Regions from separate parts of the Homo sapiens genome. Here all the other regions are linked to region 3. The links come from fine-mapping of genetic effects on gene expression. A gene starts in region 3. Each other region holds a variant in brackets. All regions are shown on one strand. Distances are from middle to middle.

Region 1 (8,177 bases), 39 kb before region 3:
CATTTGAAGAGCTCCCACTGGCGACCCATATAGCTATCCCCTGGGGCCCCAACGACCTGTCCCTTTTGATTGATGACCCTGAGCTTAAGCTCAACCAAAAAGAGTAAGTACATCAAACAAGGTGTCTCTCTTCCATCCCTCACTCCCTTAGCTCTTTGAGACTGCTGGCTGCCTGCCGTCAGCAAGACATTGCTTTCCAAGCCACTGTGGTTGTGGTTAGAGTTCACTAACACTGAAAGCTTGACCGAAATCACCCTTCTCTTGCTGTACAAAGGGGGCTTTTTCTCCCTGTCTAGCCATGCACATGACCTGATGAGTGAGGTCTCCTGCTCCCTCCCTTCCCGCCCAGTGGTCCTATCTCAGCTACTGATAATAATCTGATCTTGAAGGGCTGGAGAAGACCCTTTCCAATTTGAGAACAAGTTAGAATCCAGCAGAGGGGCCTCAGCACACCTGGCACTTGCACAAAGCTTCTAAAATTGCTTTTGTGATCTTATCTCCTTTTCTCTTTCTCTCCAGAGAGAGAGGAGAGAGAGAGAGGAGGAGTCACACTGTGTGTGATGATGGCAGGGGTACAATGGCAAGCCAGATCTAGAGAGCCAGGCCTGGATTCTTCCCAGGATGCCCCACTGCTCAGTGGAGAAGAAAGGACATCACTGGGCTTGCCAAAGGCCACTTGGCAGCCAGAGGCCCAGGGGAGGACAGTAGAAAAGCCTACCTCTAAAGAGGCCTGGATTCCAGTCCCATCCCAGACCCTAATGAAAATGAGGCAACAAGTGTCAGCTGCTTAGCACTGCCCAGCAAGGGCTCAGTAAAGGGCAAGGCTATCACTATCACTTGAATTTGACAAATCCCCAAATCCCCAACTCCCCAATCCTCTCTGAGCCTCAAGTGTCCTTAGCTATAAAATGTGGTGCGGCAGAAGGAGGGGGTAGAGAAGCATTTCCCAAGCTTCAAGCATTCTTATACCACCTGCACAGCTTTTACCCTAGCTTCTTAACTGCTGTACCCTTATTCACTTAGTACTTTACTTTAGACCATCTTTAAATCAGCTTTATTAAATTCAACTTTATTTTAAATAATTATATCATGAACTCATGCTAGTTATGTTTTTTCTATTATATGCTAAATGCTGTTAAAACAGATATATTTAAGCAAACCTAAATAATAATGTGTACCACCTAAAATAATCTCTCATGCCACACTCTGGAAAACACAAGACTCAACAAGCAATAAGGGCCCTCAGGCTCTTGCTATGGCTCCAGCTTTAAGGCCTCATCCATGGAGACCACAGTTCTGATCCAACAGGCAGCCTCAGAAATCTGCCTGTGCTCCAAAGACAATACCAGAACTGGGAAGGGGGTGGCAGAGTTTAGATGGGCCAAAGTGGGGTCACCAACCTTGGGGATGGTCTCGCTCACAGCATAGCTGGCCTTGTCACTGACCCACACCTTCTCCCTTGGGGAGAGGTCAGCACACAGGGCCTTGAGCTCGCTCAGGATGGACTTGTAGGGATGCACCTGGATCCTGTATTCGGCTTCCAGACCCAAGTCAAGAAGCAGGTGCTCCTTCACACTGGGGGCGTCTATGCGGTCACCATCAATGAAGAGCCTGCAGATGGAGGAGAGGTGGGTGGCAGAAAAAGGAGGGAACATGAGTGAGAGGTGGCAACACAGACACACATACACATCAGGCTCTGTTTCCTGGCAACCAAAACCAAGCCCCTTTTCTCTCCTCCCCACTCCTTTCCCAAATCCTGCCCTCCAAGGTGCATTCCCTGCCCCCATCCACCCAATCTGCCAAGCCAGAAATCTGGGCAGTGTCCTCCTTCACTGATGACCCTCTTCCCGTCCTTCATTAAGACCTTGGGACCCACAGCCTAAATCTCCATCTAATCTGTCCAGCTCATCTACAGCCTCGCCCAGTCACCACTCAGGTTCAGGTCCCACCATCTCTCACTTGGGTTAGTGCCACAGCCTCTAAGTCTTTCCCCATCTACCGATGTTTCAGTCATAATATTCTTTACAACTTGTACATCTAACATGTGGTTCCCTCTGAAAAATTCGTTCAATAGCTTCCCACTATTCTTGTTCAGAAAAAGAACCCAAGCTCCTGAATGTGGCCCACAAGGCCTCTCTTTTCTGTGGCCCCTGCTCACATTCTGGCCTCACTATGTTCTGACCTCACTGAACCACTTCAGGTCCTCCACATGCACTGTGCTCTCTACTGTCCAGAGTCTCTGAAAATGCTGTTCCCTCTGCTTGGATCATGGTTCCCCGCCCCTCCTCACCCTGCCATTCACCTAACTCACCCACATTTATCCTTACTCTCTGCTTCAAAATATTACTTTCCCCAAGAGTCTGCTCTGATCTCCAAGTCTAGGTCAGGCCCCTCTCGTAACACCTGTATCTGTCCCACAAGCAGACTGGTGCCCACTTATGTGCCCAAATACTTTAGAAAGAGGACATGCTCATCTCCCCAACTCCAGCCAAGGACCCCGTCCTGTTTCAGTCACCCTAGCACCTAACAGAGACCCTTAGCACATCACCAGCACTTAATAAATGTGTTGTCTTAATGCAAAAAGCTATTGAAATAGAACAGTAATGAAAAGAAGGCCACACGAAATGCTTTGAAAAAATAAACTGACAATTCAACAAAGCGTAGTTGGAGGGGTTTTCCCATATTATTTTTGACCTTCAAAATGACTGGGTTTATTTGCATTGTGGACCCAGAATTGTATAATTGAGCATATATACCCCTTAACACTGGCTGCTAGAAAACTTGACATCAAATGGGTGGCCCGAACTATAGACACTTTCATGCGTTTCAAACCATTTTGGGGGCTCAAAGAGAGGCAGGATATAAATAAACACCTACTGCTAAGGAAAACAAGAAGGGAAAATGTTAAAAGGGCAAGAAAAAAGAAGCACATCAGTGAAATATCAGGCAGTGATGGGTGGGCCAGGACCAGAAAGGGCACACTAGGGCTCTGAGGAGCTCTGGAAGGGAGTTCCAGATGCAGGGCAAACACTCACATGATCGTCTCTAGTCCTATGATTGCGTAGGAGAAAAATACTGGATTGTGCTCCACATCTGATCCTCGGAGATTAAATAGCCCTAGAAAAGAAATCAAAATCCCTGTCACCTGTCTGACTTAAGATGTTAAGGGGTCGCTTGTAGCGGGAGGGAAGAGCTTCAGCTTGGAGTCCAGCTGCTGCGCAAGGATTCAGTGGAATCGCACAGAAAGGCTGGAAGCCTGACTCCCGTCTGGTTCCACCTCTGAGCTGCAATTGCTCATGTCCACCACGTGATGGCACCAGAGCTGTTTCTCAGGCTTCCACATCACTGCCCGGAGAAGGGAATAAAAGCTATTAGTTGAAATCCTGAGAACTGCCCCCACAAGGAGTTGAAATGATCC[G/A]CCTAGTGGTGACCTGCCAGGCCTGGCCTTGAAGCCGACAAACCTCTGGCGCTCCCAAATAAAAAGGAAGGAGACGAGCACTCTCTCCCTTCTGAGGCAGATGACCTAGGGTAGAAAAACTGAGACCCTCCCACAAGGGAAGCCAGGCAAGCCTCCTCTGTAAGGGTCAGTGAGCCCCATGGAGACGGAGCTTCCTGTCAGAGGTGGAAAGAAAAGCAGTGAGTCAGCAAGGCTGCAGCTCACCAATGAAATCAGAGCCTGCAGCCCACCCATGGGTCTGCTCTGGCACCACGACTGGGTGGGGGACCTGCGGACAGCCAGTAACAGTGATGTTGCTGAACGTCTGAGAACTAGACAGACCAGGAGAGAGCACAGTTCTGGTCCCAGGACTTCCAGCTTCCGTCACTTGTTCTCATGAGGATCAGAGCAAAAAAACGCCTGGGCATTAAAAGTATAACCTCTATTTTAAAATAATGGCTTCTTAAAGTGATGAGGCACCATTTTTTACCTATCATACTAGCACTTCTTTAAAAATGACAGTACCTGGTGTTCAGGTGTGGCAAGACAGACAAATTCAAATACAAAGGTGCAAACTTTCTGGCAGACAAAGGGCAAGATGAGTCAAAAGCCCTAAAAGCCAACCAGAAATAGGAAGAAAATTATCAAACACTAAGACATGGATTCATGAACCAAGATTTTGATGGTAGCATCATAATAAATTACAGGATTACTGCAAATAACCCAAAGGTCATCCTTAGGGAAACAGTTAAATAAATTATGGTATAACCACATGATGGAGTATTTAATACTCACTTAAAATTATGCTTGTATATGCTTATAGTGTACTGATACAGTGAAAAAATCAGGCTATAAAATGATATATGCATAGAATATTGACACTGATTATCTCTAAGTAACAGAATTTATACGTGATTTTTTTTTTCTTCTTTTTACTTCCTCTGCATTTTCCAAGTTTTCTATCATGGGATTGTGTTTTTGTTACAATCAGGGAGAGAGAAAAGTTTTACAGGTGTTTTTCTCTGACGTTGAGATCATTAAGTTAATTAGGGATGTAAGTCACTGACACACTTGACAATGTTTTGTGGATGGAAGATGCAGGGACTGAAGAGAGAGGACACTGCAGTAGGGTCTCATTCTCTAGTGAGAAGGCAAAAAGATAAAGCAGTGCCTCTTCTCAGTTGCCCTGGGTCAAATCCACTCAGAAACCAGAAGACAGGACAGGAAGGTTCAACCAGATTCCGTCAGGTTTTAGATGAAAGAAGGTGCTGAACAACTGCATGAAGGTGGGTTAAGGTCCAAAGACTGAGAAACTACTATTACATCAAAGGGCTTGGGGAGGAACTTTTAGTTCCTAGTTTTCTGAGGTAGAAATGCTCCCAGAACATTCTCACTATAAAGACCTTAGGAAACCACAGGACAAGTGTAAAGAAAGAAGGCCTCTCCTATGAGCCCACTTCTACACCTACAGAGGCTGACAGACATAAAATATTTGTAGGAAATGCCCTTCCTCAGAGGTGCCATGGTCCTGAGGGACTGGCCAGAGGTGGGCATCACCCAGCTGTAATACTGCTCTGGACAAGCCTCACTCCCCTCCCCAGCTCCCTGTAATTCTTTCTCCTTCATCCTAGTTGGCATCTCCTATACCCATTTGGTGACGTAGTCTTCTTCTTATTCCCTGGCCACTCAGAAAGTTGAATGGCATGAACACACAGATACCCAGAGACCCAAAGGAGAGATCGGGTAACATGCCCAAACAGCGAAACCAGAGCACTCACACGCAATCTCATCCAAGGCAGTGACCACAAACCACATGACGTTCCTCTCAGCCATTTTCAACCGAAGGTCTGCAACCTTGTCCTTCCAGGAGATGCCTGCAAGAAACAAATGTGCTTTAACTCCAGCCCTGGTCCCAGAAAGCAGTAGGAACCCAGTGAAAGAACCTACCCTAAACATCTTTAATCAGCACCATTTCTTACAGGAGCACGCTACTTAAACAGGCAGGAGGCCTGGATTCAAGCCCTATACAAGAAGTGTCCAAGCCACTTGACTGTCGTGAGCCTTGATTGCCTCACCAGTAAAATTCATTCATTTACGCATCCCACAAATGCCTGTGTAACATCTAGATCTGCCAGGCATAGATACGTGCCAGGCACTCTGCTGGTCACTGTGGTTACAGATCTGAGCCAGACCCAGTCCCTGTCTTCATGGGGCTTACAATATAGAAGGGAAGACAGATAATTAAACCAGCAATTAACACACTACTGTAAATACTGATGCAACAGGGGACACACAGGGACCTATATCAACACACTACCCAGCAAAGGGAACTCACCCAGTCTCAGGGGTCAGGGGAACAGCACCCACCACTTGATGTTCCTGGGGGCTGCAAGACTTGCCTTTCAGTGCTAAGACCTAGGAATTCCCTGTAGTCTGACTCACTGTGATTACCACTTCCAAATCACACTTGCCCTTTCAGACACTGCCAAGGCCTCTCTGTTGCTCTGCAAGATGAAATCGTGGTGCTAGAGGAGCTCACCCCATTGCCACCACAACCACCCTACCAGGGCAGCATTCATAACTCAGGGAACAGCCACCTGTGAGCAGGGTGGGCATCTGTCTTATTCACTCAGCACCTCGCACAGCATCCTGCAGATAGTAGGCACCCAAATGTGTACTGAACAGCAACATTTGCTCTCCCCTCTCCTATAAGCAACAAGTCAGAGCTTCTGCTCTAGTGAAAAAAACTTCAAACCACGCTGATGGAAAATATTTAGCTGACCCTGGGCCACTCACTGGACCCATCCTCCCCATTCCGCAATACCCCTCTGGTGAGGATGTCACACAAGAAAGCAGGCTGGGGCTGCCCCCACACCCAGGGCTGCACTGAAGATCAGTTCGGGAATGCTGTTTAAAACTTGGCCCAGAATCTAGGCTGTCACGCTTTCTTCCCAGGACCCCTCTGGGCAATCTGCCTACATTCCACAGCCATCCCCCATCTACCTCTGTTTCTACAGCAAGACGCCCTCCCCTGCAGCCCCACCTCCAGGCCTCTCTCTCTGCCCCCTCACTGCTTCATAAATCCACACAATGGTTCAGAGAACATGCTGCTTACCCATCACTATCGCACAGGCCAAGGAAACACACCCACACCCCAAAGCCTCTAAAGCAGAAGGTACAAGATGGAGGACAAAGGCCTAGGAAGGTAAATCTACAAATGCTGACATAAGAAGGGAAATGGAACCTAGAAACCTCTATGCTCTATTTCCAATATCAAATACGTTCGAGTGGCAGTTAGCAGCTGAGTGGATAAAAAAAACTCAGTCTTTTCAGCAGCACCCAAAAAGCCACCCAAACGAGCTTTGCGAAAATAACCAAAGCCAAACTAAGTGGCAAGTAGGTGGCAACAGTGGAAACAAACAAAGCTCCTGCTTCTTCAAATATCCCACTGGGGCAGAGTAGGGCAAAATCCTCCTGTCAGCTCCAACTCGACTTGGATTCGGAGGACGAGGCTGGAGACAATAGCAAGAGGTGGGGGGACAATGGCAGGGGCCCTGCTGGGCAGAACCATTGATTCTGACCTGTGTAATCCAGGCCCAGTGTGAGGAGAGGCTTGCAAGGGCGCTCAGGACGGTCTGTCCAGATTTTGTCAACGAGGTTCTCCTTGACAGGAATGAGGTGATGGCCGGCACTTCTCAGAACTTTGGCCATTTTCTTCCAATAATCTGAGGAGACACATTGTGGCCCAGCCATGAGCCGAACGCCCATTGCAGCAGGGCAGGGAGCAGGGCCTTGAAAGTCCAGAACCTTCAGAAAGGTGGTCCTGCCATGGCCCAGAGCTGGGTGTGCAGGATGAGGAACTGTAAAAGCACATCTTCACCACCAGTGGAACTCTTCTCTTCACCCTGACCTCTACTATAAAATCAGTCATGCTGAGCCCCCCAGTGCTCCACACCCCACAAGCAAATGAGGAGAATGGAGGGGAATCTAGAAGCCACTTCCTTACCCAAGCAGAAAGGGACCAAGCTCACTTACCTGTAGGAATGATCAAGGGGTCCACACCAACCCTGGATCCTTCAGGAAGCACACTCACCAGCCAGTCTTCCTGAGTTGGTGTGTCCTTCAGACCTACAGGGGGAAGAAATGATAAGAAACAATTCCCAGTGGGCCCACGCTCATTATCCCACCAGAAAGATACAATTCTCTAACATCATGATAGCAGGGTCTTTATTAAGCAGCTTCTTTAAAGTGGATTGACAGGACTTAGAAAATCTGAACCTCCCTTAATCCTGGAAGGCTACAGAGAGGGAGAAGTGTAAGTTTTTGTGTATGAAAAACATAAGACAAGGGTGAGACAGAAGGGAAAAAAGTATGATTTTTCACTTGACCCCTTGTAAAAATATCTTGGGGATCACTGCCACGTACACACATGGCGTCACCACAAAGATTGTCTCCTCAGCGTTCAGTCACTTCCCCACTACTGGTCACTTGATGAGAATTTGGGCAGTGATTTGGTGAAGTCTGGGAACTGGGAGACTCCCACATATCACATACCAGGTAAGGTGATAACATGCTCCCAGTGCCCGCCCCTCATCTGCAAGGGCAGGGTGGCCAAGAGAAGGCCGCTGCCCCATAACCAGCCTCTGAATAGAGGGCTAAGCACAAGTCTTGGCAGCAAAGAGATCTTTCCGAAGATTTTAAGAGAGGCACACAGGCACCTGTCCGGTTGTCTTTATTTATT
Region 2 (8,171 bases), 59 kb before region 3:
ACTAGCAAGCACAGTATCCTTCCTCCCCTCTCGCAGCCCTCCCAGTCCCCCATCTTGTCTCTTGCTAGAGGCCAACGGTGCTTGAAAGATGCCCCAAAGCACTCTACTTTGTCTTCATATCATTACTGGTATAAACCCCCAGTTGCTGGGAAACACGAGGGCAACACCTCCCTCATGGCTTGTTAGTTCAACCTTGGTTCCTTTCACAATTGCCCACCCCTAACCGGGAATGAGCCTGATGAGGAACAACTGATGGTTACTGTCAGGCAGCCAGATGCCAGGCACAGCCCTCAAGCTAAAGAAGTGGTGAGAGCTGGGGTGGTGGGGGCAGCCCCCTCACTGGCAGGAGGCACAGATGGACTCTTTCCAGAAGGCGAACAAGCGTCCCACAAGTCAGTCCCTGGAGTGTTCACAGCAGGGGCCCCACATCTGTCCCCTTCCTTGAATCCTCCTACCTTATACATAAAACTTCACCAGGGAATACAGTGAGCAAGACAAAGAAACGAGATCAGCTTCCTTCTTTAAATTCAACACAATGCCCATTTTCCTACCCAACATTTATTTTATCATTTATTTAAAAGTGAGGAAGAGTGATTTTTTTTTTTTTATCTACATTTTTATCTCCTCATCTTCCCTCTGAGCTCTGGCACATTAGAGTTTTATTCTGGTCCTCAATCCTTATGGGGCCATCTTGCCTAGTTTATGTCTCTTGGACTTAATGCCAAGACAAAGCAGGTCCAGGCAGGAAGCTCCAAGCACCCAGCACCTGTTACCTTTGCTTCTCGGGCTACAGCCAATTAAATCAAACTTTGCTCTGAGGCTGCCTTGGGGAAGAACAGGTTTAACAGCCTGATGAACAGACAGTGGAGTTGCCGTCACACTTGAGTTACGACTATTTCAACTCCAAATCAACTGCGATTCATGCCTCCCATTTCCTCAGCAAGAGAAGACTTTGGGATATCAGAGAAGACAACAGCCTGAGTCCTAAGGGAAATCTTCTAACTTCCAGAGGAATGACAGATGAGAAACATGCTTAATACATTCTATCATTTGGGGAGAAATTTCTCTTTTAAGTCCAATGTTATGGTACATATTAGAAATATGACCAAGCATGGACAAAAGGCATTCAAGAATTGATCTTTGATGGATCAAAATATGTCCTATTATTGGGAGGCACTGCTTCTATGCTTTCCTGACCTCGTTAGAAATATACCGAGAGGCAGCAGTGAATCTTGCTTCCTCCCACATAGCACATTGAAATCAATGATCCTTGAGAGAAAAAAAAAAAAAAAAAGAGGAGGGTGGGAGACGAAAAGCAAACAAATGCTGGTTCATTTGTTTTTAGGCACTCTATGTAGGACCACCCTGGTTCTGAATGGTAAATATAGATTGTTTCATTTCATTTTCTGCTCCGCCAGGTGGAGAAAGTAATGGGCACTTACAGCCATGCTTTGGTAAATGGCCAAAGTATGCTTATATTTATTCATTTGTCAAAGCCATTCGAATTAAATATATGGTTTAGGATTTAAGGAGAGGATTCTGGGAAGATGGTAGGAAGCACTCGGAAAGTGTCTCTCCACCTAGACAACAATTGCACTGGCAGAATCTGCCTGATGTAACTACTTTAGAACTCTGGAGTCTACTGAACGCTTGCAACTTCCAGAGGACAACTTGGATGGTAAATGAACGTTAATTTCAATCCATTTCAGCTCTTAGCACAGTAGCAGCTACCAATGTCTACTCCTAACCCCTTGGCAGGAACTTATGCACACGTTCCCAGAGCAACTGGCATACAGCTTGTGGGAGCCAAAATGAACAAAAGGAAACTTGCCCTCCAAATACTGCAGACCTGTGTTCTGGTAACTGCTTCTGAACACAGAGACGCAGACAAAGACGTGGGCAGCCACTGTTGCTGTACATCCCATCCCCCGACTGTTAGAAGTCCCTTCTCCCCTTCTGGCTGAAGTGACTTCCAGAGGATTTAAAGGACCAGTACCCTTTTCCTGCCCTTCATTTTTCTTTTTCCCTCGTTGGGAGCCAGACATTAAGTAATAGGACATTCAAAAACAACTGCACATATAGGGGAAATTAGAGACTGACTGCACATATCCAGGGAAAGGCTCAAGCTCAGAAAAAAACCTGAGAAGACCTTAAGTTGATACCTCAGGCTGATACTTGGCCCACAGACTATCTACAACAATAAATAATAATAATAATAACACACATTAACAAAAAAGGGCAAACCCTAGGGAAAGAGGAAAATCTGATTTCCAGAGTTGCCACATTATTAGATTCAAATGTCCAATTGTCAACCAAAACTCACAAGGCATACAAAGAAACAGGAAAGTATGGCCCATTCAGAGGAAAAGAAAAATCCACAGAAAAAAAGGAAATATCAATAGAGACAGACAACATAAAAAGAAACCAAAATGAAATTCTGGAGCTGAAAAGTACAGTAACTGAAATGAAAAATTCACCAGAGGGATTCAAAGCACATATGAGCAGGCAAAAGAGAAAATCAGTGAACTTGAAGATAGGATAACAGAAATTTTGAGTCTGAAAAACAGAAAAAATATTAAAGGGAACAGAGCCTAGAAGACCTGTGGGACACCATCAAGCTGACCAAAATATACATTGTTAGAGTCCCAGGAGAAGGCAGAAAGCAGCAGAGAGAATATCTGAAGAAATAATGGCTGTATAATTCCCAAATCTGGTAAAAGACATGAATGTAAACATCCAAGAAACCCAATAAACCACAAGTAAGATTAACTCCAAGAGATACACACAAAAATACATTATAGTCGAGCTTCCAAAAGTCAAAAACAGAGAGAATCTTGAAAGCAGTGAGAGAAAAGCTACTTACCACGTAAAAGGGATCTTCAGTGAGATTACCTGCAGATTTCTCATCAGAAATTCTGGAGGCCAGAAGGCAGTGGGCCAATATTCAAAATGTTAAAAGAAAAAAAAAAAAAACTGACAACCAAAGAATCCTATATCCAGCAAAACTGCCCTTCAAAAGTGAGGGAGAAATTAAGAGGTTCCCAGGTAAACATAAGCTGAGGGAGTTCAGTACCACTAGACCCACCCTGCAAGAAATGCTTATAGGAGTTCTGCAAAGTACAATGAAAGGACACTAGACAGTAACCCAAAGCAGTATGAAGAAATAAAGATCTCAAGAAAAATAAATACATTGGGCAATTATAAAAACCAGTATTAGTGTACTGATAGCTTGTGATTCCAGTTTTTGTTTTCTATATGATTTAAGACTAATACATTTTTTAAAAAATTATGTCTAAATGCTAGTATTACTGTTTTTAAAAAGTTAATGAGGCTAGTTTTAAAACAATATAACCATACGATGGAATTAAGTCATTAAAAATAATTCAATCTAAAATATTGCCAAGTTAAAAGATAAAATTGTATACGTACAGAATAATTCACTGTTTGTAAATGTGATATGTTCATATATGGCATATTCTTTCATACATACACAAATAATCAGTATTTTAGTAAATTTTGAATACAAAAAAAAAAGGAGTCAGCAAAAAATATAAAGCAGATAATAGTGGTTATATCTAAGGAGTATGTCAGGTTGGATTAATAAAAAAGCAGACCCTAAAACAAGGATTTGCATGTAAATGGTTCATTCAGGATGGTACCAGGAAACACTAATGGGACAGGAAGAAAGTAGGACATGGAAGAGAAGAAAGAAAACAAAGGGTTGGTTATTGAGCAAGTTACCATGGTGGGCAAGTGGGGCTCAATCCCACTGGGAAACCCTGAGTGACAATGTAAGACATACCTCTGATATCTTAGCCAAAGGATGAGGAAGTCTATTTGCCCATCCCATCCCCAAACGTGATGGTCTGAGATCTCAGGGACATTAACTCTCCAACCCTTGGAGCTTGCCCCACATATACAAGTCAAAAGAAATCCTGCAGAATGGGAGTCGCAGGCACTTGTCACAGAATCCTGCCTACAAGTAACGGAACAATGAGAGCTGTGGCCATGTAGGTAAGACACTTGTGGCATCTGCTATAGGGTGAGTTATGGAAAACTGACTTTTGACATAATTTTTATTGTTTTTTGCATAGGAATGACATATTTTAAAATCAGGAAAAAAAACTGAGATAAAAACACCATAATATTAGGTTTTCTAGAGAAAAGAAAAAGCTTACAACTAAGCCCCCAAATGTGCGGGGAGGCCAGGGGTCTCTTCTCAAAGGGGCCCTTCCACCTAGGAAATGTCTGCCACAGAGCCAGCAGCCCTGGAGATCAGCTCACCCGACATGCCGGGGGACAGCACCATGAAGAAAGAGACAGCTAAGACAAAGCACAGTTCTGACATTTTTATTCACTGATCATAAATATAGTCTCATGAGCATTAAGGTGATCATGAATGATGTACTAGCACCTGGAACATGACCATCATGGAGCACTCACTGATTCCCCATCACTGGCCAAAGAAGTCGGGGCATCTTCCTTTCACCAAGTGTTCAACTTTGGAGGGACCCTCCTTCTGGTGCAGCAATTTTATTCTTGGCTTGTTCTCAACAATTAAAAAATCATAAAAGACTGA[G/A]TGTTTGCAATAAAATATCAAAGAGGATAAGAAGATTTTCTGTTCTTCTTAAAGTCTAAAGTAAAAAGGGGAGGTAGGGAAGAAGGAAAGGAAAGGGGAAAGATGTCAGGGATCTGCCACGTTTCTTCCTTCCTCCAGAGCATTTTACAAAAACAAAACCGGGGAGGTATTTATTAATGCTGTTTGGAGATGGGTTGCGTCTCTCTGATGAGCCACTCGAGAGCTTCCTGGCGGCCCTGTTTCTGCAATTCCTTCCCAATCACATCCCTGCAGGTCAGGTGGTAATTGTTGAGCCAGTCGCACTGCAGGGAAGAGAAGGACAGACACGGTATTCACCACTACATCTTTAACAACTGGCTACACAGGTCAACAGCAAAGGCCCCCATGTGCTAAGATCACAAGCTGAGAGAAAAGGTGTGCAACACCCTTTCTCCTTACTCACAGGTAAGTATTTTCCTTGTGTTCTGTTTCCCCGGAAATACATAGGACCAGACTTCATGGCTTCTGGTGAAAAGGCTCCCAGAACAGTTTACTATTATAGACAGCAGTCTCTAAGCCAGTAGCTCCTGCTCCCACCTGTGTGGCTTCATTCCCTTAAACCTGAGCCATCCTGGGAGGTGGTAAGTGGGGGAATAGCCCCGGACTCTGTGAGAACTCCTGCTGAGAGAGACACTCGAAGCTGTCCTGCCAACACACTGGGCTACATATCCTATATCCACTGAAAAAGCTGAATAAAAAACTAGGATCAGCCAAGCCCATGGGTGTCTTTTGAGTGTAGCTGCCTAGATGAACCCAAAACCTGCGGTGGTTAAAGACTGTGGTGCAGCAGAATGGCGCTGGGAGTAAACTTAGTTTTCAGACTCTCAACTCAACATGCCACAAGAGCAGGAGACAAAAAAGAGAGTGAAAGGAAGGACCTGCTGGCAGGACTTGGTGCCTGGGCAGGGGCTGATCCACTAGACATGATGGCAAAAGCTCTGAGGCAGGAAAAAGGGTGAACTCTCCTCCTTGGTTGTATACGGGAAAAGGTGAAGTCTGGAGTGAAGCAGGTTTTACCAAGAGGACAACAAGCCACTCTCATCACTGTCTATGGGGGTAGCTGTCTGGAAGCTGATGAGACTGATAGTGCCATGGCTGTGCTTGTCATAAATGAGTCAAAGGCCATTTTGGAGGGCAGCGATGTTACAGAAGTACTGCTTTCAGGGACTACAATCCAGCCAGGTACCAAAGCCCAGCTGGGGTCAGGATGGGCACACAAACCCATTAATTACAAGGGACTGAGGGCAGACAGATAGGGTGGTGTTACCAACTGGCTGTGACCCAGCCAGGGTTCCAATCCCTACTGAGAAGAGCCTAGTAGCCCCTTCTGGGAGTCAGGGAAGTGATGGGGGCAGGGGAGGATGTCAAAAGCAGGCAAACTGCTATGTGTCCACAGCAAGGCCAGCAGGGCTACAAAGCAGCCTACTGTCCAAAGCAGCTCAACAGTAAGGCAACGGCAGCATCCTGGTGTAAGCCTGGGGCCACAGCCAAACGCCCATGGCCCTTTTGGTTGGAAGTAGGGAGGGAAAAGTGGGAGTGTGGACAGCCTCGGTGGAGCCTGAGGAGCAGCACAAGGCCCTGACAGTCTGCAGCTGGCCATATTCATATCTGACCAAGGTCCTTTGCTGCCATCTGGTGATAAGTGATGACGATGCAGACCCAAACCAAAAACTCCCTAAAGTGACTCCAAAATAAAGGCTAAATAGTAAAGGGCAAATGACCAGATATTTTAAAAGCCAGATATTTTAAGAAGACATTATCTGCCCTACAAAGAGTAACTGGCCGAAAGAATAGTTCAATCATGTGGGCATGCAAGGTGCAGCAATGAAACACTGGGTAACACAGATCCCTGGTCTATGTCCAATGTCACGGGAGTAGACTGATTCTCCTTCGAGGAAAAATGGCCTGGCTTAAACTTCCTCATATACTACTTCCCTGGATAAAGGGGAATGTCATATGGGAGAAATGCCTCCTGATGGGTACACTTTATGTGGACAGGAAGGACTGCATGACCTAGAATTACTTGGCAGGAATCCATAGCCTTGGACTTCCAAGAGTGCGAAATGACTTATTACTGGAAAGCCCCTTGCTAAGTCCCTGGAAGCTGTGCCCAAGGGCCATTACAAGAGACACTGGTTCCTATGGGGCAGAGGGATTCTAAGCAGGGTGGGTCCCATGCCCACCTATGTGTTTTCATTTCCTCTCAGCTAAGGCAACACTTACAGGGGCTGGACAAGAGCCCCTGGACACTGGAAGGACTCTTCCTGCTGAAGAGACACACCAGACATTGTGCTGATAGGCTGAGTTTCCTTTTCCATATCCATCTACAAGCTGCATAACCCACCCGGTATCAGCAAGGCCCATGTGGGTCCTGTGAGTGGGAATGTTTAGCTGAACCAAGGGCACGGATGGTTAAGCAGAGGCGCTCAAGCACAGAGGAAAGCTAAGCAGGAAGTGGATGGACTTTCTCATCACCCACCTGTGAACTGGAACAGGCAGAAGAGGCTTCTAGCTGGGAGAATCCCATTCCACAGCTCCTGTGGAAGGGAAGGTCCTTAACCCCCAAAGACCCTTTCCTTTACAGTGTCAAGAACGAGGCCCAAGTGGGCGCCAGTGAGGAAATGTTCCTGCCTTGAGAGGCACTCAAAGGCCATTGGCTGCCTCAGATAACAAAATATTCTTATTCCGAGAGTAACCCACCGTGCTTACCCTGCCTTCGGCTCCCACCAGTCATTTGCTTTTCATTGGAACTTCTGACCCCTGCCTTGCTCTGGAATTTGTGTCCTCCTGGCTTCCAGCTTCCTGGTTTGGGAACTGTTTTGTCTGTCTAGTGCTAACAGTTCCTACCCCATTTCTGACCCTTGTTTCTGCTCTGACCTTGAACATCTGTGTGATTCTTCAGGCCTTTCTCATGTCCCCAGGACTGCCATCTGACCTGGCCTTACCAGTCCAGGGTCTGAAGGAGTTAAGACCCATAACCCTCTGAGCTGGGCAAGTAAGCACTGTTGTGCCCCAGGCTTTGTGAAGGGTTTCACTGCCCCAGAGTGACCACAGTAGTAACCGAGAAGGGCTGGTACTATCTTTCTCCTTGTCTGTGTGAAAACAGGACATACGATAATAGATTTTGCTTTCCATTTCCTTAATGTTTCATGTAACACAAGAAAACAATCTGGTATGTACAGTGGCCAAGAGGCCCCACCATCCATCTGGCTTTTTGTAGGGACACACATAGGCTCATATTTGCTAAACACGCCTCACTGCAGCTATGGAGGAATAGTACAGCCAAACAATGGCATACGAGTTCCACCCACAAACCCTACAGCCCCAGAATGGCTGCGGGAAACAGGACTATCTCCACCTGGAGGCCCAACAAATACAGGAAAAGCTCAGGAGTCCTCAGAAAACCTAGGGCTTTCAGACTCAACTGGCCTAGACCTCTAAATTTAAAAATTACAAAGTGAGACTGGATTAGAGAATTTAGGATTTAGAGGATGGATTAGAACTATTTAAGGTAGTCTCCACCTCCCCTAGTAACATGCCTGCCCACCAAGAC
Region 3 (8,177 bases):
AGACGGGCAGATCATGAGGTCAAGAGATAGAGACCATCCTGGCCAACATGGTGAAACCCCATCTCTACTGAAAATACAAAAATTAGCTGGGTGTGGTGGTGCACACCTGTAGTCCCAGCTACTCAGGAGGCTGAGGCAGGAGAATCACTTGAACCCGGGAGGTGGAGGCTGCAGTGAGCCAAGATCGTGCCACTGCACTCCAGCCTGGCAACAGAGCAAGACTCCGTCTCATTTAAAAAAAAAAAAAGAAAGAAAAGAAAGAAATCACACCTATGACATAGGTGAACCTTGAAAACATGCTAAGGGAAAAAGCCTAATACAAAAGACCACATAGTATATGATTCTATTCACATAAAATGTCCAGAATAGGCAAATCGGTAAAGACAGGAAGTAGACATGCAGTGTTGGTGGTTGCCAAGGGCTGAGGTGAGGAGTGACTGATTACAGGTAACAGGATTTCTTTCGGGGATGAAGAAAATGTTCTAAAATGATTGTGATGATAGTTGTACAACTCTGTGACTATACTAATAACTTGAATTGTACATTTTAACAGATGAATTGTATATAAGTGAATTATATCTCAATAAAGCCATTATAAATTTTATAACATCTCTTTCTTGTGGACAGGGATACAAGTCAGATTCTCACCGAATTTCCCATTACTTCATACGTAAGTTTCTAAGATGGTAAGTAACTGATCCCAATGACTGGTTCAGACACATGACTACAGAGGTGGAAGGTTATCATTTTTTTAGAGACAGGGTCTTGCTGTGTCACTCAGGCTGGAGTGCAGTGGCACAATCTTAGCTTATGGCAGCCTCAAACTCCTAAGCTCAAGCAATTCTCCTGCCTCAATCTCCCAAGGACCTAGGACTACAGGTATGTGCCATCACACCAACCTGATTTTTTTTTTTTAATAATTTTCTGAAGAGACAGGATCTCACCACATTGCCCAGTCTGGTCTCAAACTCCTGGCCTCAAGTGATCCTCCCACCTCAGCCTCCCAAAGTGCTGGGACTATAGGTGTGAGCCACCGTGCCTAGCCAAGGTTACCTTAAGGTAATCCTATTCATTCATTTTACAGAATAAAAAAACAAAGATAACTTACCATAGGCCATATAACTCAGTAGCCGCAAAGCCAAGACCAGAAACTAGGTCTGACAGGTGAGCTCAAACTCTCTGTGTGAGCATCAACACCTCCACCTTTCTGTCAGGATCACAGGAGCTACGAAGCAGCTCAATACTACAGCTGCTCTGTTCTTGTCGTATCTTGGTCTCCGCAGAGTCCAAGATCTATCCACCTTTCACTTGTTTGGACAGATAAAATTCTTAAGTTCTCTGTCAAAGCACAATTATCATTAAATATTAAGAACTAGAAGAATATACCTCAGGGACTATCCAACTCAATTCCCTCCTCTAGACCAGGAAACCAAGAAACAAAGATCAAATGACTGGCTCAAGGCCTCACAGCTAACTGCTGACAGAGCTAGAACCAGCGTTCCAGCCTCCCAACATCCAGCTCAGTGCTCCTACCCTTCCCAGAACTTCTTCGACCTACACCTTCTCAACTTCATGATGAGCCACAAAGTGGGTAAGGGGCAAGAAGCATGCAGAGCACTTTCAATCTTTGTATAAGATGGTTATGGTAGCACTAGAAAAGGCCTTCTCCCTCTTTTTCCAAGAAATTCTGGCAGGGTTCTGAATACCTCACCCCCCTGCAACCCCCAGTTCATGGGAATCACACATGTGTAGCGTTCAGCATGGGGCAAAACAAGGAACAAGATGCTCAATCACACCTAGTGGATGAGACAAGGGTAAACTGGAACAAGTTCTAAGGTTGGGAAGTAAGCAATGTTGTCTTTGTCTACCCAGAATCCATCCCTCCTTTTGATGGGAACCTTGGTTTTCCTTTTGAGAATGTACCCTCTCCATTTCAGCCCAAGGGGTTCAAAGCAGTCTTATCCAAACACCTAACAGGCTCTGGGACCCAAAGCAGGTCAATCCCTCCCTCTGGCCATAATGATTGGTTCACAGATGAACATGAGAATTAAGGCAGCCCAGTGAGCATCAGATCAGGGACTTCTGCTCCATTAGGAAGGAGGGCTCAACTTCTCTGCTGGGGCTGTCAGCCTAGAACTGTCATAACCTGCCATAAGGAGAAAGTCTCCCTGAGAATGAAGCGGATACTGAATAAATCAGAGCCAAGAGATGATAAAGAGAAGTCTGAAGCCAATGTTGGTGGTGCTCCCGGATTCAGCCACACTAGAAGCCAGCTCAACCCCATTTTAGGTAAATCAATTTGAGTTCAGTTTCCATTACCGAAACTGAAAGAAGTGCTCACTTTTACAAGGAATGGCACTCAAATTCTACCAGTAGGGGAGGCGCCTGTGGAAAATGGCTTCCCCTCTCTCAGCCTTTCACTGGACTTTCCTTTGAGGTAAAAAAGACTCTACCAGCTGGTGTAGAAAAGACTCTTCTGCTCCTAAAAGGCTGTGAGTCTATAAATCTAGCACAGATCACCTTGGCCCCCTAAAGACCACCTGAGGCCTACAGCCTAACTCATCATTATCCACTTGCCTGACTCCATTTCCAGCACTTCACTTACAGGAAGCTCCTTCCAGATGGAAGTTCTCCACCCCTCCCACATACTTCCACAGGGTGGGTCTGGTTTTCTGCTCACCCTTAACAAGCTGTGGCAACGGCAAATCCAGGTCAAGGTAGGTTTGGGACCCCCCTACTCACAAACACAAGCAGGAGCCATGGTCTGTGTTCAGCAAGAAAGCCTGGCCATGCTGCAAAGTGAGTGCATTCATGTCTCAAGTGGTTAGCAGGTGGGTGACCCCTTGGGGATGGCCAGGGAGTCTGGCCTGTGGCCTCCATGAACTCTGAACACCTCTCTCCGTCTCCCACTTTGTCAGAGGCTCTGATAAGTACATCCTGGTTATGGCAGGGGAATAAACTAAAACATGTTTAACTTGAGGCCGGGAAATTATCTGTCTCACCCTCCTATGCCCAAGGAGAGCCCAGGGCAGGCTACTGGGGGGATTTTCCTGGAGATTATACCAAAATATTCCCTTACACAGCCTCTGAAACCATTTGGGTAGGGAGGGGCCCGCGACCGTCTATCCTTGTGGCGGTGACAGATCAGTAGAGTGAATTGCAGGAGTCAGTATTGTCGAGATTGTAACTTGAGGTTTAGATTCCTGGGTAACAGAAGCGAGGGCAAAGGCTCGCCCACCTCCCCGGACACGAAGAGGGGCCAACTTCCTCCAAGAACGGGGCCTTCCCGCGGGCCAGGAACTGTGACGGCCGCCGCCCCCTCAGGCCGAGTGCAGCAGTTCCGCGGGCATACGCGTCCAGGAACCAGACTCGGGCCGCCCCGTGCCCACCGACCCTCCGGAAACGAACCGGATCTCGCCCGGCCTCATGGACCCCTTCCCCCGGCTCCTGTTCCGGGGCTCCGGCGAGCGCGGCCCTCGCCAGACTGCGGCGGGCCGGGCTCCTCACCCGCGCGTCCCTGCCCGCCGAGGTGCAACACGCGCGGCCGCGCAGCGAGGGCTGCACGCTGCCCGGACGCCGGCTGCCGGCGGAGTGCCCTCACCTTACTCGCGGTGGCTTTCTGGAGGCTGCCATTCGGCGGTGACGTGCCCCAGCCCACGTCAGGGGAGCGCAGACCAGCTGATCACCCGCGGAAGGGCCGGCGCGAAGGAGGCGCGAGAGCCGGCGGGCGGGCGGGCGGGCTAGCGCCGGGTCGGCCACGCCCTCGCCCGTGGCGGGCGCTGGCGCCGCGGCCCCGCCCACACGCAGGCCCCGCCCACACTCCCGGACCTGGGGTTCGCGGCCGCAGCGCCTGCGGCCCAGAGCGGGGCCTGCCCTTCCACACCAGTCCGCATTGCCTCTCCCTGCAGCGAGCGGGGAAAGGACGCAGTGCTGCTGAGTGTCTTCATTTTTGTTCGTTTTTGTCGTCATTCCTCAAAGAGGAAAAAGGGCTTTGCCGAATAAAGGGGCTACTGTCCCAGGGATTTTCCGGCTTAATTTAGGAGGGCTGAGAAGAGAGGGACGTGGCCGGCTCCGGAAGAACCTCGACAGGGTCTTCGAGGCTTTGGAACAGGGTCTCAAGCTTTAGAAATGTCCCCAAAAGTATGTTCCCAGAGAGCTTCAAAATCCAGCTCTCCGCTCCGCTTGGATAGTAAATAGCCCCTTCAAACTTAACGTCCAAACGGAACTCCTGGAACTCCCAATGCACCGAAGCAAAGCAAAAACGTTCTCCACCAGTCTTCTTTGCCATCTCAATCAATGGCTACTCTATTCTTAAGAGGCAAAATTTAGGAATCCTCCCTGCCTCTTCTCTTTCACACCCCACATCTAATCTGCCAGCAAAATCTTGTTGGCCCTGCCTCCAAAATAGACCCCTAATCTGGCCGTGTCACACCACCTCCACCTCCTACCCTCTGATGTGCATCAGAGGGTTGTACCACCCCACCCGTGTGGTTACAGCAGCCCCCCAAATATCCCCTCACCATCCCGCACCTGCACAGTCCAGCCTGAACAAAGCCGCCAGACCAGTCCTTTGAAGCGTGACACCAGGTCACTTCTTTGCTCAGCACTTTCCATTAATTTCTCGTTTCACGCAGCATAAAAGCTCCATTTGATCTACCCCCAGCCACATTTCCTCCTGTTCTCACCTTCCTCACTCTTCTTCAGCTGAAATGGCCTCCTGGCTCTCCTTGAAAAAGCAGGGTACACTCATGTCCCAGGGCTTTTGGACTTGCTCATCCCCCAAATATTGAGGCTCCCTTCCTCATTTTCCTTCAAGTCTTCGTTCAAGTATCACCTACCCTGACCATCCTATTTAAATTTGTAAATCATTCCAATATTCCTAATCCGCCTTACCCTACTTCATTTTTTCCATAGCACTTACCACCTTTTAACAGGATTCTTTTAATGTACTTATGTGTACTGTATTCTTCCCCCTCTCCTGCCACCACCCACGCACACAACAAAACCATCAGTGCAGATTGTTTCTGTTTTGTTTAATGATGAACAATATCTAACATGTCATAAGTTCTCATTATATATTTTCTGCAGAAATGAATGTTTCAGAATGTGCACTCCTCAAAAGCAGGGATGGTGGCTCTCTTGTTCATTGTTATTTCCCTGGTGCTTAGAACAACACCTGGCACTAAATGAAAGTGACCACATTTTTTTAAAGGTGAATGGCACCTCCTCCTGCTTTGACCTTGGTGTAAGGCCTAATATACCTGTATCAGCTAGGTTCTGCTACCTGCAAGAACTCAAAGTCGTTATTGAATAAGCATTTAGGCAAGCCGAATTAGACTGTGTAGTTAAAGCATGAAAAAACTAAAGATGTGCTTCCTGGGAAAGCAGCACACATCTGTTGCATTTCCCCAAATTTATGAAGCCAAAAACAGAGAGATTGTAAATAAAATACTGGTTCCAGCCCACATCTGAAAGCTGGTGGGAAAAATCAAGTTATAAGAGAAAACGAGATAAGAGAGAGAGAGATAAGTGAAACTTAAGGGGGACAGGTATTTAATAATCACATTGCCTAAAAGAAAAGGAGTTGGCTCAGAATTTACGGCATCCAGCTTCAGGGGAGAGAGAGAAATACCTTGCATTCCCTGAGCTGGATTTGAGTTCCTGTTTGCAAGATAAAAAAAGGAACCCTTTCCCCTCTTGAAGTTTTTTTGTTTGTTTGTTTTTTGAGATGGAGTTTTGCTCTTTTTGCCCAGGCTGGAGTACAATGGCACAATCTCAGCTCACTGCAACCTCTGCCTCCCGGCTTCAAGCAATTCTCCTGCCTCAGCCTCCTAAGTAGGTGGGATTACAGGCATGCGCCACCACACCCGGCTAATTTTTTGTATTTAGTAGAGACGGAGTTTCACCATGTTGGTCAGGCTGGTCTTGAACTCCTTGGCCTCGACCTTCCAAAGTGCTGGGATTACAGGCATGACCCACTGTGCCCGGCCTCGCTCTTGAAGTTCTAACAAGAGAACCTCTGGAGAAGTTATAGCACTGAATTACCATGAGAGAATGAGAACACCAGGAGTTATATAGGTTCTTCTCCTGGCTCTACAGTCCTTGCATCCTCAAAGAAGTGGAACAGTCACACTGCCTGACATTCATTGAAGGCTATGTGTCTAACCCACAACAAACCAATGGGTGAAGGACTCTTATCCTCATTTTACTGGTTGAGGAGACTGAAATTTGCAGAGGTTAAGCCCCTTGCCCAAAGTCCCTGAGCTAGTAAGTGGTGGTACTGTAACATACATTCAGACAGCAGGATGGATTCCTAGCCCTGACACTTAATCGCGAAGTTATCTGGAAGGGACCCTAGAGGTGGCCTCATCCAGTCTCCTAGCCCACACAGCAGAAAGAGGGAGACAGCTGGTTTTGGCATTCACACCCAGACCGGGTGGGTCTTAGATGTAGCCAGAAATATTAAATGCGTAGAAATATGTTGGATTGAATTGTGACCTCAAAAATTCATATGTTGAAGCTCTAACCCCTAGTACTTTCGAATGTGATCTTATTTGGCAATAGGATCAGTGCAGATGTAATTAATTAAAATGCAGTCATATTAGAGTAGGAAGGATCCCTAATCCAATATGAAGTGTCTTTATTTAAAACAGAAAAAGAAATCACACTGTGCACACAGGAAGAACACCATGTGAACACGAAAGCAGAGATCAGGACGATGCATCTACAAGCCAACAAACACCAGGACTGCCAACAAACTGCCGAAAGCTAGGACAGAGCCATGGAACAGATTCTCCCTCACAGCCCATGGAGTGAACTAACCCTGTGGGTATCTTGATCTTGGACTTCCAGCCCTCCAGAACAGTGAGACAACAAATTTGTTTTCAAATCACGCAGTTTGTGTTGCTTTGTTACGAAAGCCCTAGGAAACCAATGTAAAACAAGTTCCAAATGTCCGTGTATAGATTGTGGACCTGTGTTTTGGGCCACCCGACATTCATTCATTCTCCTTCTGATAACCATCCTACCAATTCCCTCTGGGGCCCACCTCTCCCTACTTCCCTCCTTTCCCCATTCTCTATGTATGTTATCCAAGTGCAACACTTGGATTCCAAGAGTGTATCATGTAACCCAGGCATAGGCTACAATGATAGGATCAGATATTGCTATGGGAATAGAGTCTTGCTTCCTTCTGCCAGCCAAGATCCTGGATGCATATACTCGAACTGCTGCCTCTATGTGCAACATGTGAATGGCACCAAGGCAGCAGAAGACAGAGCAAATAGAAAGGGGAGAAGCAGACCTCAAAACGTTATTTGAGTGCTGCATCCTGCAACACCTTAAACCAGATGTCCCACTGGACTTTACTTAAGTAACCATCTGTACCATTGAATTTTATGCATGAGTAGATATCATTTTATTAATGTAGACAATCACGAACTAACAAAGGGAAAAAGTAAATTATAAAACAATATAATATCCCTTTTTTTGTTTTTGTTTTTTGTTTTTTGTTTTTTGAGACAGAGTCTCGCTCTGTCACTCAGGCTGGAGTGCAGTGGCACAGTCTCGGCTCACTGCAAGCTCCGCCTCCTGGGTTCACACCAATCTCCTGCCTCAGCCTCCCGAGTAGCTGGGACTACAGGCTCCCGCCACCACACCTGGCTAATTTTTTGTATTTGTAGTAGAGATGGGGTTTCACCGTGTTAGCCAGGATGGTCTCGATCTCCTGACCTTGTGATCTGCCCACCTCGGCCTCCCAAAATGCTGGGATTACAGGCGTGAGCCACTGCGCCTGGCCAATATCCCATTTTTATAACATATCCATAACTATGTATACTGATACGGATATATAGATACAGAGTTTTTTGGGAGGGAGAGACAGGGTCTTGTTCTGTCACCCAGGCTGGAGTGCAGTGGTGTGATCACAGCTCACTGCAGCTTCGACCTCCCAGGCTCAAGCAATCCTCCCACCTTAACCTTCTGAATAGCTGGGACCATAGGCACACACCACCACACCCAGCTAATTTTTTTTCCTTTGGTAGAAATAGGGTCTCCCTATGTTGCCCAGCCTTGGTCTCAAACTCCTGGGCTCAAGCAATCCTCCCGCCTCAGCCTCCCAAAGTGTTAGGATTATAGGCACGAGCCATTACACCCAGAGTAAGTACTTTTTTAGAATA

Which allele goes with the higher level. Positions count from the first base shown, and alleles are read on the strand shown. Sizes are in standard deviations (SD) of each study's normalised expression. Not every link is listed here.
For the expression in adrenal gland of the gene that starts at base 3,711 in region 3, G is the high allele of the variant in region 1 and A is the other (small effect, 0.34 SD a copy in GTEx).

What was found. PIP is the estimated chance that this variant, and not a neighbour inherited with it, causes the effect.
Region 1: its variant is fine-mapped to the expression of XPNPEP1 in adrenal gland (GTEx, PIP above 0.99).
Region 2: its variant is fine-mapped to the expression of XPNPEP1 in T cells (TOPMed, PIP above 0.99). The same link has a PIP of 0.9 or more in blood mononuclear cells and whole blood.

The regions. Positions count from the first base shown.
Region 1 is chr10:109,881,032-109,889,208 of GRCh38, forward strand. XPNPEP1 (X-prolyl aminopeptidase 1) reads right to left here. Exons shown (of 21, transcript NM_020383.4): 6 at 7,472-7,564; 7 at 7,018-7,161; 8 at 5,215-5,310; 9 at 3,036-3,117; 10 at 1,401-1,611. Among named protein-coding and RNA genes, the nearest start is that of XPNPEP1, 38 kb to the right of the region's middle. The variant G/A (reference allele first, on the strand shown) is at 3,419.
Region 2 is chr10:109,860,432-109,868,602 of GRCh38, forward strand. It overlaps XPNPEP1 (X-prolyl aminopeptidase 1), which reads right to left. Exons shown (of 21, transcript NM_020383.4): 21 at 4,335-4,881. The coding sequence ends at 4,753. Among named protein-coding and RNA genes, the nearest start is that of XPNPEP1, 59 kb to the right of the region's middle. The variant G/A (reference allele first, on the strand shown) is at 4,580.
Region 3 is chr10:109,919,801-109,927,977 of GRCh38, forward strand. It overlaps XPNPEP1 (X-prolyl aminopeptidase 1), which reads right to left and starts at 3,711. Exons shown (of 21, transcript NM_020383.4): 1 at 3,602-3,711. The coding sequence starts at 3,633. RefSeq lists a silencer at 3,387-3,926.